Homo sapiens: one gene and its partner. The protein of the gene in region 1 interacts with the protein of each later gene in a pairwise test. Each region holds a gene or a part of one and is shown on either strand. Other genes may lie near its edges.

What was found. The genes of interacting proteins can lie anywhere in the genome.
Region 2: the proteins of RASSF7 (region 1) and SNAP29 interact in binary tests that used the Homo sapiens proteins (3 or more experiments, as listed by UniProt).

The regions. Positions count from the first base shown.
Region 1 is NC_000011.10:556,280-563,996, forward strand, and holds the start of RASSF7 (ras association domain-containing protein 7), read left to right. Parts: upstream 1-4,690; 5' UTR 4,691-5,198; intron 5,199-5,482; 5' UTR 5,483-5,489; coding exon 5,490-5,613; intron 5,614-5,799; coding exon 5,800-6,497; intron 6,498-6,909; coding exon 6,910-7,038; coding exon of another isoform or gene 7,039-7,101; exon of another isoform or gene 7,102-7,116; coding exon 7,117-7,199; exon of another isoform or gene 7,200-7,278; coding exon 7,279-7,366; 3' UTR 7,367-7,717. Other genes in the region: LMNTD2 (lamin tail domain-containing protein 2), read right to left, coding at 1-96, 213-309, 556-818, 1,120-1,208, 1,293-1,361, 1,605-1,775, 1,882-1,969, 2,335-2,487 and 2 more. UniProt on the Homo sapiens protein: Negatively regulates stress-induced JNK activation and apoptosis by promoting MAP2K7 phosphorylation and inhibiting its ability to activate JNK.
Region 2 is NC_000022.11:20,876,005-20,883,031, reverse strand, and holds part of SNAP29 (synaptosomal-associated protein 29), read right to left. Parts: intron 1,984-7,027; coding exon 1,898-1,983; intron 1-1,897. UniProt on the Homo sapiens protein: SNAREs, soluble N-ethylmaleimide-sensitive factor-attachment protein receptors, are essential proteins for fusion of cellular membranes.

The sequences.
Region 1 (7,717 bases):
ATGCCGCTCAGGTCGGCCGTGCTCTCCTGCGACGGGTTGAAGATGCGGACGAACTTCTCCCGGCAGCTCACAGCCACGATCTTCAGGCCTGTCGGGCTGGGAAGAGAGGAGACGCTGTGAGGAGATGCGGCCGGTCCACCCGCACAGCTGCGCGCCCCGCCCGGAAACCAGCTCCAGTCCGGCGCCGGAGGCTTGGGTCACTCGCCCCTTACCTCTGCAGGAGTTCCGGGCTCCAGTGGTCCGGGTCTGTGCAGGGCTGGGGCGACAGGACCGGCTCGCCGTGCCTGGGTGAGTGGGTTTTCTGGAGATCTAGAGAGAGCAGCGCTTTTGGGGAGGGGACCCTCGAATGGAGTCCCCACCGGATGTTCCCCGTGAGGTCAGAACAGGCCTGCAACGCCTGGCGGGGCAGGGAGCAGGGCCAGGGTCAGATGGGGCAGGAAAGGTGGCTGGACCTTGGGGGCTGGAGGGCCACCTCCAGGGCTCTGAGTGAGATCACAGCTCTGAGGGGGTGGAGGGTGGGTGAAGGGTAACCAGGGGAGACCCGCCCCACTGCACCTTCTGAGTCCCTGCTGTAGCTGCCGGCCTGCACCAGCGCTTGCTCGGAGGAAGCGCGGTGGTCCCGGGGCGGGTGCCCTATCACCTGCACGAAGGAAGGCAGGCCCGGCCGGCAGCTGCTGGAGTCGGAGTCAGCGCCCCCTGAGCTGCTGGTGTTCAGACAGGGCAGGGAGCCCCACTCCACGGTCTTGTGATGCCGCTCGGAATGCTTTCCAGAGGACTCTGGGCTCCCTGTGTCCAGCTGTGGCCAGGGCCGGGGCTGCCTGTGGACCACGCTCTGCTTGATGGCCACTCCAGCTCCAGACCCCAGCCCTGCCCCCGTCCAGCCTCACAAGGCAGTGCAGCAGGGAGCCCCTCTTGCCTCCCAGTACCCAGGCTCAGTTCATGGCAGGACAGTGATGGCTGCCTCAACCCCAACGCATTCTACAGATCAGAGAACGCGCATTGGAAGGTTTAAGAGACTTATCCAGGGACACTAAATGGTCCTTTAGTGTCCTGCGTCTTCACTTGCCAAGGTGAGCCCTCCCTTCTGGCCCCTGGGGAGTCCCTGCTCTGTGCAGTTACTTTTGCTTTGAGCTGGGCTCCATGTTGGTGAAGAGGTTGGGATACCGGCGGGCAACGCTGTTCCAATCCACGTCCTCCAGCCGAAAGCCCTGGCCAGGAAGCAAGAGGCACATGGTCCTCCCCTCCCGCAGGGCTCCAGATACCAGACCACACACGTGGGAGGCCTAGCTCACCTCCCCGGTGGGGGCCTGAATGTTTTCAGAGAGGTCGCTTGGGTCCATCAGAGTCTCTGCCGTCACTACCTGCAAGAGGGGACCGGAAGCCAGTGGGCAGGGGCTGGGTGCTCCCCTACAGCACCTCTCCTCTTTGACCTCACCTGTGCTTTGAGGCCTCCTGATTCCTCCCTGCTGGAGCCCAGAGTTCCAGAGGCACCTGAGCAGGGCAGGCTTCCAGGCAGGCCAGGGCGCCCCAGCAGAGGCACCCGACGAGATGGGGAGGGCTGGGGAGGGCAGCCTGGGGCAGGAGGGCTTGGGGGACAGGCTCACCTCCACACTGCCAGTCTGGGATCGTAGCATGCGGCCCACCCACGAGGAGCGGGCCAGCTGCAGGAGGCAGGACTTCTGCAAGTTCTGCAGCTCGGCCTCCATCTCCTGGAGCGTGCGGGTGGTCTGCAGCAGCCGCTCCTCCAGGTGCTCCTTCTCCTGCTCCGAGAGGGCCTGTGGTTGGTGGTGGGGGGGTGTCTTCTGCAGAAGGCCCCCAGGCCAGCCCCAGCCTGGCTCCCCAACACCAGGACCCTGCCCACTCCCTGTGCCCCTGCCTCACCCACTGGGCTCGCTCCTTCTGTTCCTTCAACTCCTGGATCAGCTTCTGGACCTGGTTCTGCAGGAGTTTCTCCTGACTGTGGGAGCTCCTGGAGGAGGGGTGACCTCAGCAGCCCCCACCCTGCTCAGGCAGGGGTTCCTAATGTCAGGTCAGTGGCGAAGGAGGGGAGAAGGAGGGGCTCCACTGCCACCTTGGCCCCAAGGGCACACAGTACAGCCCCGCTGGGGCTGGCCAGCCTCCGGCTGGTCTGGACAAGGGTCTAGCACCCATCCACATGCGCAGGGTTAGGGTGGAGGCTATAGCGTGTTAACTTAGGATCAGGGTGGAGGGTCAGCGCGGGCAAGGATGAGGGTAAGGATCTGCCTCAGCGGTTGGGGTTGGGGTCAGACAGAAACCAGGAGTCCGGGCGAGGACAGGGCGGGGTTGGGTTGGGCTGGGGACTGTGCTGCAGACCTCTTGGGCGGAAGCCCCGCCACCTCTTCCAGGATGTGGCAGAGCCGGGCGTCCTCGCCATTCTGGATGGCCCACCGCAAGGCCTGGATCTCCAGTTCTCGCTGTCTCCACAGCAGCCGCAGTGTGCGAGGGTCCAGGGACTCAAGAGCCAACCTGCAGCGGCAGCAGACCCTGCTGCTTACTCAGGCCGGCCCCTGGCCACCTGGCCCAGGAGGCTCACCAGTCCTCCCTCTCCTCCTTACTGCGGGTCGGCAGAGCAGACCACCGGTGCGGGGTGGGGCGTGGTGTCTGGCAGGCACGTGGGAGTCTCGGGGGCTGCAGGTGCGCCTGCTGGAGGTCCCAGGTGACCACTGACCGACTCTTGCTCTGTGGGGGACAGGAGAGCCTCTTCCTCGGTTTCTTCAACCTCCTGGCCAGACTTGGGGGCCATTCTCAATGTTCTTCGGGAGCTGGGAGGGGTGGGGGGCCCGTCTGCCGTGTGCGCCTCGTGTGGCCACACAGGTTGGAGCAGCCCAGGCGTCACCACTTACTCACAGAGCGTTGCTCTCTGAAGGGACCCACATGTGGGTGTCCACACCCGTGTGTTTCTGACCAGGCTGGCGCAGCAGGTCACCACCCGACATGTCCCTGGCGTGTACCCCTGCCACCCAGGTGCTGGCCCTTTGCCTGTGATGTGGTGTCCCTCTTTCTCTCTCTTGTCCCCCCAGCTCAGGGCCCTACCCCCAGCACTCACCTGAGGCCCGACCTCCAAGCAGGCCTGGGAGGGAAGGGCTGTATACCGTTGCCATGGATACCAGCACCCAGAAGGGGTGGGGCTGTTTGTTACCAGGAGCCTCCAGGGAGACCCCAGACCAGGCCCCTAGGTGAGTTCTGGGCCAGCCCAGCCTGGAGGAGGTGTGAGAGGCTGAGCCACTGCTCAGCTTAGCGGGGGGACCACTTAGTGACCAACACCCTGAGGGAGGCCCCAGCATCCCCTACCTAGCCTGGCAGCAGCAGCGGGATAAATAGGGGGGCACTGCTGCCTGTGAGCCAGCCCAGCATAGCCATGGGTGTGTGGGGGAAGCAGACAGGTAACAGTGACAAGCTGGGGACTGTGCTGAACGCTAACTGGCAATAGTACACTCCTGCCCACAGCCTGTTTTTAAATTAATAATTAATTCTTTAGAGACAGGGTCTTGCTCCGCTGTCCAGGCTGGAATGCTTCGGTGTGATGACAGCGCACGTTAACCTCGAATTCCTGGGCTCAGGTGATCCTCCCACTTCCGCCTCCTGACTTGCTGAAACTACAGGCACCCGCCTCCACCGCCAGGCCCAGCCCACAGCTCCTTTGACCTCAGTGACAGGCACTCACCTACCTGACCCCCAAACTGAAGCCTCACTTTTCCCAGCCGTGTCCACACCCTCTGGGCTACCCCATTACCATGACAAGTATTCCCTCTGCTCCAGGAGAAAAGCCAGGTCCCAGACCTGACCCATTAAAACCCAATCATTCCAGCTTTCACCCTTCATCTCTGCAACTTTCGGCTATGTAAGGGCTCCCTGGGGGAGCACAGGAGACAGGCGGGCAGGAGGCCCACGCCCACAACTCTTTCTGAGCTGGGCAGAACAATCAATGGCCCACACAGCTGACCGCGAGGCTGCGGGGCCCTGGGCGGGACAGTAGGGTAGGGGGTGAAGGAGCGGCTTCCAGCCAGCTTCACTGTGTGCATGGCCTGGCACTGGGTCCAAAAGGGGCAGGAAGGTGTCGGAGAAGAGCCTCAGCTAGAGTCCGGGCCTTCTGAGCGGGCACCTCCCGCACCAGGACTCTGCGCCCGCCAGCTCCGCAGGGCTCCACCTCCCTCGCCGGGACTGGTGACCCTGCGACCCCGCGACCCCTGCGCGTCCAGACTACTGCAGCTGCGGTAGGCCCCAAAGGCTGGCCCGGGAAGCGAGGGGAGGGGCTGGCCCCGCTGCCCCTGGACGCAGGCGGGGGTTGCGGGATCTCAAGCCAGAGACCCTTCCTGGGCGGGAACCCGCCACACTAGAAGGCTGCTGAGGAAGTCGGCCCAGGAGCGGGGCCAGACACCTACCCCGACGCCTGCCCGCGGGCCGCAGCCACCGCATTTCCGCGTTTTTCGCGGTAGGCGGGAGGTGGGGGCGGGGACTGCGGCTCGGCGCCCCCCTCCGACCCGCCCACACCTGTAGTCTCGGGGGGGGCGGGGCGCGGCGACGAGCCAATGGGTCGGGGAGGGGCGTGACAGAGGCAGCCAATGGGCGCGGGGAGGGGGCGGAACGCCCGCGCTGAGCAGCCAATAGGGGTGCTAGGGGCGGGGCGTGCGGACCGCGGGCCAATGGGGGCGCGGGGCCCGGGTGCGCCGCGGCGCTGGGGGCGGCAGGTTGCGGCGGCGCCGGAGCGGGTCTCCAGGCTGGCGAGCGCCCAGGTGAGCCGCGCCGGGTCCCCGGTACTTGGGAGCGCGGGGCGCGCCTCGAGCCGGCCGGACGCCGACTCCAACTGGGGAGAGTTTTCCGCGATGCCCGGACGGAGAGCGGGGGCGGCGCCGCACCTGCGCCCGCCCTGCGGAACGGGGACGCCCTGGCTCCCGCCAGGCTGGGGTCGCGGCGCGGGCTTCGGTGCCCGCGGCGGGGACCGGGACTTTCGGGGCGAGCGCAGCGATTAGGCGGCAGCGGCGGGGCTCCCCGGGCTGGCGGGGGCTGCTCAGACCCGGAGTCTGCTCCATCTGCAGGGTCGAGGTCTGGGTTGCGACCCCGAGCGCCTCTGCGGCCTGAGCAGGTCGGGGTGGGGCGTTCCCATGCCGGCGGCCGCGGGGCCTGGCGTGCGGGCGCCTCCGCGCCGCCCGGGGAGGGGGCAGTGTCCTCCGAGCCAGGTGAGGCGAGTAGGAAATGCTGGATCTGGTTAATGATTCGCCTTGTTCCGGGAGTGCGAGCGTGGCAAGAGGAAGCTGGTGAAGTGGGGGAGGATGCGTGCTCCGGAGGGCCGCCACCCCAGGAATGTGTGGCTGGCGGGTGGGGCTGGCACAGGAGGGTGGGGCCCGTGCGGAGGGGCGGCAGCCCAGCCGTTTCTAGGGCAGGCCAAGAGGATGAGGAGAGGAGGACCAGCCTGCGATAGGAGTAGGCAGGTCCTGACCCGGTGCCTGCGCCCTCCCCACAGGACAGGCATGTTGTTGGGACTGGCGGCCATGGAGCTGAAGGTGTGGGTGGATGGCATCCAGCGTGTGGTCTGTGGGGTCTCAGAGCAGACCACCTGCCAGGAAGTGGTCATCGCACTAGCCCAAGCAATAGGTGAGTCCTCTCGGGGTCAGGCAGGCCGGGCAGGTAGAGCTGAAGTGGGACCTGGTGGTCCAGCTCCATGGTCTCCCCCAAGGAGAGTGGGGCTGGTTGCTGATCCTTTTTGTTCTTCCCAACTCTTCAAGCCAGGTGGACAGAGAGTCGGGGGGACATAGGCTGACCTTCTCCTCTTCTTCCCAGGCCAGACTGGCCGCTTTGTGCTTGTGCAGCGGCTTCGGGAGAAGGAGCGGCAGTTGCTGCCACAAGAGTGTCCAGTGGGCGCCCAGGCCACCTGCGGACAGTTTGCCAGCGATGTCCAGTTTGTCCTGAGGCGCACAGGGCCCAGCCTAGCTGGGAGGCCCTCCTCAGACAGCTGTCCACCCCCGGAACGCTGCCTAATTCGTGCCAGCCTCCCTGTAAAGCCACGGGCTGCGCTGGGCTGTGAGCCCCGCAAAACACTGACCCCCGAGCCAGCCCCCAGCCTCTCACGCCCTGGGCCTGCGGCCCCTGTGACACCCACACCAGGCTGCTGCACAGACCTGCGGGGCCTGGAGCTCAGGGTGCAGAGGAATGCTGAGGAGCTGGGCCATGAGGCCTTCTGGGAGCAAGAGCTGCGCCGGGAGCAGGCCCGGGAGCGAGAGGGACAGGCACGCCTGCAGGCACTAAGTGCGGCCACTGCTGAGCATGCCGCCCGGCTGCAGGCCCTGGACGCTCAGGCCCGTGCCCTGGAGGCTGAGCTGCAGCTGGCAGCGGAGGCCCCTGGGCCCCCCTCACCTATGGCATCTGCCACTGAGCGCCTGCACCAGGACCTGGCTGTTCAGGAGCGGCAGAGTGCGGAGGTGCAGGGCAGCCTGGCTCTGGTGAGCCGGGCCCTGGAGGCAGCAGAGCGAGCCTTGCAGGTGAGCCCGGGGACCTGATCCCCTGTCACTCCCCCACCCCTGATATGGGCAGATACGGGGATCACAGGGTCCCACTCGGGAGGCAGGTGAGCCCGGGGACCTGATCCCCTGTCACTCCCCCACCCCTGACGTGGGCAGATATGGGGGTCACAGGGTCTGACTCGGGAGGCAGGTGAGCCCGCGGACCTGATCCCCTGTCACTCCCCCACCCCTGACGTGGGCAGATACGGGGGTCACAGGGTCCCACTCGGGAGGCAGGTGAGCCCGGGGACCTGATCCCCTGTCACTCCCCAACCCCTGACGTGGGCAGATATGGGGGTCACAGGGCCCGACCAGGGAAAGTGCTCCCTCCGGAGCACAAGGGCTGTGGAGCCCAGTGGCTGTGCCTCCTAAGGATCTCATGTGTCCCCAGGCTCAGGCTCAGGAGCTGGAGGAGCTGAACCGAGAGCTCCGTCAGTGCAACCTGCAGCAGTTCATCCAGCAGACCGGGGCTGCGCTGCCACCGCCCCCACGGCCTGACAGGGGCCCTCCTGGCACTCAGGTCGGAGTGGTTCTGGGGGGAGGCTGGGAGGTGAGGACCTGGCCCAGCCCCACTCCAAGCTGACTTCCCAACCCACAGGGCCCTCTGCCTCCAGCCAGAGAGGAGTCCCTCCTGGGCGCTCCCTCTGAGTCCCATGCTGGTGCCCAGCCTAGGCCCCGAGGGTATGTCTGTGCCCCACCTCCCCCTGGGGCACCGGGCCCTCCTGTGGCTGCAGCCACCTCAGCCTGTGTCCTCCCGCAGTGGCCCCCATGACGCAGAACTCCTGGAGGTAGCAGCAGCTCCTGCCCCAGAGTGGTGTCCTCTGGCAGCCCAGCCCCAGGCTCTGTGACAGCCTAGTGAGGGCTGCAAGACCATCCTGCCCGGACCACAGAAGGAGAGTTGGCGGTCACAGAGGGCTCCTCTGCCAGGCAGTGGGAAGCCCTGGGTTTGGCCTCAGGAGCTGGGGGTGCAGTGGGGGACTGCCCTAGTCCTTGCCAGGTCGCCAGCACCCTGGAGAAGCATGGGGCGTAGCCAGCTCGGAACTTGCCAGGCCCCAAAGGCCACGACTGCCTGTTGGGGACAGGAGATGCATGGACAGTGTGCTCAAGCTGTGGGCATGTGCTTGCCTGCGGGAGAGGTCCTTCACTGTGTGTACACAGCAAGAGCATGTGTGTGCCACTTCCCCTACCCCAACGTGAAA
Region 2 (7,027 bases), on another chromosome or scaffold:
GCACTTGAAACAAATACGCAAAAAAAAAAAAAAGAAATGTTAAATAATGCACATTTGCCACAAGAAATCTTCCTTGAACTTTTAGTTTCTTCTTTTTTAAAATTATCTTTCTTGGCTTGAATGAACTTCAGTTTCTAAACGCACACGGAAAAGCCCTGTCATCCCGGTTTATCTCTTTCAGGGAAACTTCACTTTCTAGACTTAGCACATTTCCTCCAGCACCAACCAACTGAAACCATTCTGCAAACTGTGTCGATTTTTTCTTCAGTCTTTTAAGTTAATATATACTGCACAAATAAAAACTCTCTTTAATTCCTTAAAATTGTGTCTTGGGTGCAGTGTCCTGTGCCCCTTCTCCAGGGTGTGATGAGGCCGGTTTTCCCAGCCCTTGCCTTTCAATTTACACTCACTTCCTCCACTTGCCTTTCCAGAATGAACTGTGCTGATGATGTTAGTCTCTCCTGCTCCCCGCTCTTCCTCCATCTGGGCTCTCCTCAGCTGCATCAACCACAACCATGGTGGGTTCCAGAGCTTCCATGGTGTATCGTTTTCTTGAAGGCAGCACAGTAAGCCTTTGGTTTCTAGCACCAATTTCAATGTACCTGGCTATTGTGGGGGCCTATGGAGGAGGCCCCAGGAGCCCTAAATTCCTTTCCAGATAAGGGATGTTTCTGGGCCTATCACTTGATAGAAGTGGAATGATTCGATCAACACTGTCTTGCACACCTTGTCCATGTGGCTGCTGCTCCTTCTGCTTGGGCTGGAGGCTGTATTAGTCCCTCACTGATGCTGTGACAAATGACCACAAACTTGTCTTACGGTTCTGGAGGTCAGAAGTCCAACATGGGTCTCACTGGGCTGAGTCGGGGTGTCCTCAGGGTTGCACTCCTTCTGGAGCTCTTGGGAAGAATCTAATTCCTCGCCTTTTGCAGTTTCTACAGTTCACCCGTGTACCTTGGCAGGTGGGCCCCTTTCTCTATCTTCAAGGCCAGCAGCATCTTCAGATCTCTGACTCTGCTGCTCTCTCTCCTGCTTCTCTTTCCACTTAAAAGGGACCTTTGTGATGACACTGGACCCAACTGGACAACCCAGGATAATCTCCCCATCTTGCTGATTAGCAATTGTAACTCCATCTGCAACTGTAATTCCACCTTTGCCATATAACCTAACACACTCACGGGGTCTGGGGATTAGGACGTGGACAGCTTTGAGGGGCCAGTATTCTATTTACCAAGGGGTTTTTCTGCAGTTGGCTTTTTACTGCTGGAACAATTGAGAATGACACAGGCAGGAACCAATGATGGGCACGCTCATTTTCTTTTTTGAGACAGAGTTTCACTCTTGTTGCCCAGGCTATAGTGCAGTGGCGTGATCTCAGCTCACTGCAACCTCCGCCTCCCAGATACAAGTGATTCTCCTGTCCAAGCCTCCCAAGTAGCTTGGATTAGAGGCATGTGCCACCACATTTGGCTAATTTTTTTGTATTTAGTAGAGACAGGGTTTCACCACGTTATTAGTAAGGCTGGTCACAAACTCCTGACCTCAGGTGATTCACCCAGCTTGGCCTCCCAAAGTGCTGGGATTACAGGCGTGTGTTACTGCACCAGGCTGGCCGGGCAGGCTCATTTTCAATGGAATGCAGGCCCTCACTTCCTTGTTCTCCTCTCCATGGAGGGAGGGAGGGAGAGAAGGAGGAGCCCCACCATAATGCACACCCCCAGCTCCGCAAGAGCATGCGGGGTCCCTAAGGCCCTTTGGCTAGCATGGGTGATGCCAGCAGCTGGGGCCCCTGCCCACCTCCCCAGAGAGGTTGCCACTGCCCCCCAAGGACCAACGCCAAACCTAGAGGTCTCCCCCCAGAATTCAAATGTGGCTGTGCACACAGGTATCCACTTACCTGTATCATCCAGCTTTCTAAGGTTTGGGTGGCTGGCCTGGTACTTTGCTTCCTGTTCTTTACTTGTACTTATAGCTTCTTTCAATCTTTGGATAAAAGTTCACAAAAAAGAAAACGTTTAAAAAGGAAAAACCCCTATGACAATGTTATCAGTCTTTTCACATAATGCCTGTGTGCTAAAAATCAAATGCCTCCTCTGTGCCAAACTCCTTCTGACCAAAGTAGGGATTTCAACAGCTTCTCCCAGGAGCACAGTGGGCCAAGCAGTAAGCTTATGAAGACCCCTGCCTCAGAAGTGTGGCAGCTAAGCCAGGTGTGGTGACTCATGCCTGTAATCCCAGCATTTTGGGAAACTGAGGTGGGAGAATTGCCTGAGCCCACGAGTGTGAGATCTGGGAAACATAATGAGACCTTGTCTTTACTGAAAAAAAAGAAAAAAAAAGCAGTGTAGCATCGAGTTAGGTGGCCCTCTCTCAGGGAAACCTGGATTCCTAGGACCAGGCAGATGAAAAGCACATGGAACAACCAAACCGGTACTTTAGACTACAGTCAGCAAACAATGACCTGCTGATCACATCTGGCTCACCTCCTGTTTTTGTACTGTTTCCCCGTTCTTTTTTTTTTTTTTTGAGATGGAGTCTTGCTTTGTCACCCAGGCTGGAGTGCAGTGGCGTGATCTTGGCTCACTGCAACCTCTGCCTCTCGGGTTCAAGTGATTCTCCCGCCTTAGTCTCCCGAGTAGCTGGGATATTACAGTTATAGGCAGGTGCCACCATCCCCAGCTAATTTCTGTATTTTCAGTAGAGATGGGGTTTCACCATGTTGGCCAGGCTGGTCTCTAACTCCTGATCTCAAGTGATCCACCCACCTCGGCCTCCCAAAGTGTTGGGATTACAGACATGAGCCACTGCGCCTGGCCCCAAGTTATTTTTATTATGGTAAAATACACAAAACAAAATTTCACCTGTTTTTATATGACCATGAGCAAAGAATGGCCTTAGAGATGACCATGTGCACCTCAGATGACAAACTTAGAACCTCAAGAGTTTCATTCCTCTCATTAGTGCACTTATATTACCAGAATACTGTACTCAACTATTACTGTTTTTGTTGTTGTTGTTTGAGATAGGGTCTCTCTCTGTCACCAAGTTTGGAGTATAGTGGTGCAAACACTGAAGTCTCTAACTCCTAGGCTCGTGATCCTCCCACCTCAGCCTCCTGGGTAACTGAGACCACAGGCACTCACCACCCTGCCTGGCTTTTTTTTTTTTTTTTTTTTTTTTAAATTTTTTCAGACAGAGTCTCGCTCTGTCACCTAGGCTGGAGTGCAGTGGCGCAATCTTGGCTCACTGCAGCCTCTGCCTCCCGGGTTCAAGTGATTCTCCTGCCTCAGGCTCCTGAGTAGCTGGGATTACAGGCCCCCACCACACCTGGCTATTTTTTGTATTTTTAGTAGAGACAGAGTTTCACCATGTTGGGCAGGCTGGTCACGAACTCCTGACCTCAGGTGATCCGCCCGCCTTAGCCTCCCAAAGTTCTGGGATTACAGGCATAAGCCACCATGCTTGGCCAATTCTTAAATTGTTTTTTCTTTTTGAGACAGAGTCTTGCTCTGTTGCCCAGGCTGGAGTGCAGTGGCGTGATCTCGATTTACTGCAACCTCCATCTCCCGGGTTCAAGCTATTCTTCTGCCTCAGCCTCCTGAGTAGCTGGGATTACAGGTGCCTACTCAAGTGATCCCCCTGCCTCAGCCTCCAAAAGTGCCAGGATTACAGCCATGCAGGCATGAGCCACTGTGTCCAGCCTATTACTTTTTTTTTTTTTTTTTGAGATGGAGTCTCACTCTGTTGCCCAGGCTGGAGTGCAGTGGCACGATCTCGGCTCACTGCAACCTCTGCTGACCAGGTTTACACCATTCTCCTGTCTCAGCCTCCTGAGTAGCTGGGACTACAGGCGCCCACTACCACGCCCGGCTAATTTTTTGTATTTTTAGTGGAGACGGGGTTTCACCGTGTTAGCCGGAATGGTCTCGATCTCCTGACCTCGTGATCCGCCCACCTTGGCCTCCCAAAGTGCTGGGATTACAGGCGTGAGCCACTGCACCCGGCCACTGTTTTTATATTTTAAATTTTGTCACTAAAAAGTTGTGAAAGTATGTTTTTTTCTCATCACGTAAGTCCCTATAAAATATCTTTGATTTTGCTCCGTGGCCTAGTTTGCTGACTCTGGCTGTAGACAGGGATAGCTCTTGCAACTCAAAGTCATTTAGACTATGCCTGATGCCCTGCTGATCCCCGACATCCTGCTGAGCCCCCTAAGGTATGGCAGGTGCCTCCAGCTGGGAGCTGTGCCTCCCCAACAGCCTGCTCTCCTCTATCTCAACAGCAGCCTGACCACTTCGCCAGCCAATCTGGGAATCAGGGTTACTCGCAATTTTTGCCCTCCCCCTGCACAGCGCTACTCCCAGTAATCCAGGCAAAACAAACGCCCTCTTGATCTCCCACCCCCTAAGTAGCCCAGAAACCCAGCCTCTCCTTCTGCCTTGCCTTTTTTTTTTGAGACATAGTCTCGCTCTGTCACCCAGGCTGGAGTGCAGTGGCGTGATCTCCACGCACTGCAAGCTCCGCCTCCTGGGTTCACGCCATTCTCCTGCCTCAGCCTCCCAAGTAGCTGGGACTACAGGCGCCCGCCACCACGCCCGGCTAATTTTTTGTATTTTTAGTACAGGGTTTTTGTATTTTATTTTGTATTTTGTATTTTAGAGACAGGGTTTCACTGTGTTAGCCAGGATGGTCTCGATCTCCTGACCTCATGATCTGCCCGCCTCGGCCTCCCAAAGTGCTGGGATTACAGGCTTGAGCCACCGTGCCCGGCCTGCCTTGCTTTTCTTTACCTTTAACAAGGATTATGGCAATGCCTCTCAATTCAATTCCCTCCCTTCCAATCCTTACTCCCCATGGGTGCTGCGCATCTTTCTAAAGCAATACTGGCAAGCACCTCTTCAGTTAAAGTCTTTAATGACTCCCAACTTGCAAGAGCAAGTCCAGACTCCCGCAAGCTAAGGGTTTTGCAGGCCCAGGGCTCCAGCTATGGGTAGAATGCAGCAGAGCCTGGTGAATGGAAGGATTTAACACTCCAGGATTTCACCCCACGGAAGCTGTGACTGAAAGTCTAGAACACAGAACTGGCTCCTCTAAGCACCACTGTGGGCAGTGCATTGCCATGCTGGGAGTAGGAAGAGACACTTGGCTTCTGAGTCTGCCTGGCCACCTTTCAGCCTGCACATCTCAACGCTGGCTTTATTCTTTCTATGTGCCATCACATATATACTGGTAATACATAAATGAGGAAAACAATGGTTTCTTTGTGAAAAATGGCTCCCCCACAAAGAAAGCCAATTTTTTTCTTTTTCTTTTTTTGAGACGGAGTCTAGCTCTGTCTCCCAGGCTGGAGTGCAGGGGCATGACCTCGGCTCACTGCAACCTCCACCTCCCTGGTTCAAGAGATTCTCCTGCTTCAGCCTCCTGAGTAGCTGGGATTATAGGTGAGCGCCACTACGCCCGGCTAATTTTTTTTTTTAGAGGGAGTTCTGCTCTTGTTGCCCAGGCTGGGGTACAATGGTGCGATCTTGGCTTACTGCAACCTCTGCCTCCCTGGTTCAAGCGATTCTCCTGCCTCAGCCTCCCAAGTAGCTGAGATTACAGGTGTGTGCCACCTTGCTTGGCTCATTTTGTATTTTTAGTAGAGACAGGGTTTCTCCATGTTGGTGAGGCTGGTCTCGAACTCCTGACCTCAGGTGATCCACCCTCCTTGGCCTCCCAAAGTGCTGGGATTACAGGCGTGAGCCACCGTGCCAGGCCTGATTTTTGTATTTTTAGTAGAGACAGGGTTTCATCATGTTGGCTAGGCTGGTCTTGAACACCTGACTTTGTGATCCGCCCACCTCAACCTCCAAAGTGCTGGGATTATAGGCGTGAGCCACCACGCTCAGCCAAGAAAGCCAATTTCTAGGGAGACTGAGAAAAGTGATAAGACAGTAGAGGTTTAAGAGAGGGTGGTTCCTGGTCAGAAACCAAGTCTTAAATAAGTTAGAGAATTTCAAATTAAGGGTGCATATGTGACAGGAACGCATGAGCTGTAAGTGGAAATGAGAACAAGCAGCTTGGAAAGCTGTCAGCAAGGACAAACAGGGCTTCCCAAGAGACAAAACTTCAGAGAAGGCCGAAGGGTTTGTGTGATAATGATGTACACAGGAAATGCATGACTGAACAGAAGTTTGATAGGAGAAACTTATTTTAAAAGCTTTTGAGGCCGAGGCGGGCAGATCACTAGGTCAGGAGATCGAGACCATCCTGGCTAACATGGTGAAACCCCATCTCTACTAAAAATACAAAAAAAATTTAGCCGGGCGTGGTGGCGGGTGCCTGTAGTCCCAGCTGCTTGGGAAGCTGAGGCAGGAGAATGGCGTGAACGTGGGAGACGGAGCTTGCAGTGAGCCGAGATCACGCCACTGCACTCCAGCCTGGGTGACAGAGCGAGATTCCATCTCAAAAAAAAAAAAAAAAAGCTTTTAAGTGGGCCAGGCACAGTGGCTCATGCCTGCAATCCTAGCACTTTGGGAGGCTGAGGCGGGAAGATCAGTTGAGCCCAGGTGGTTGAGATCAGCCTGGGAGACAAAGTGAGACCTTGTTTCTACAAAAAATACGAAAATTAGCAGTGCATGGTGGCCCATGCATGTAGTCCCAGCTACTTGGGAGGCAGAGGTGGGAGGGTTGCTGGATCCTGGGAGGTGGAGGATACAGTGAGCAGAGACTGCACCACTGCACTCCAGCCTGGGCGACAGAGCGAGACATTGTCTTAAAAAAAAAAAAAAAAAAAAGGCAAAGTTTTTAAGTGACAGTATTCCTGCATTTATGGATTAAAGGTTTTGACAGGATCACAAAAATTTTACTCACAATTTATTGCATTTTTTTTTTTTGAGATGGAGTCTCTGTCGCCCAGGCTGGACTGCAGTGGCTTGATCTTGGCTCACTGCAACCTCCACCTCCCGGGTTCATGCCATTCTCCTGCCTCAGCCTCCCAAGCAGCTGGGACTACAGGTGCCCACCATCACCCCTGGCTAATTTTTTG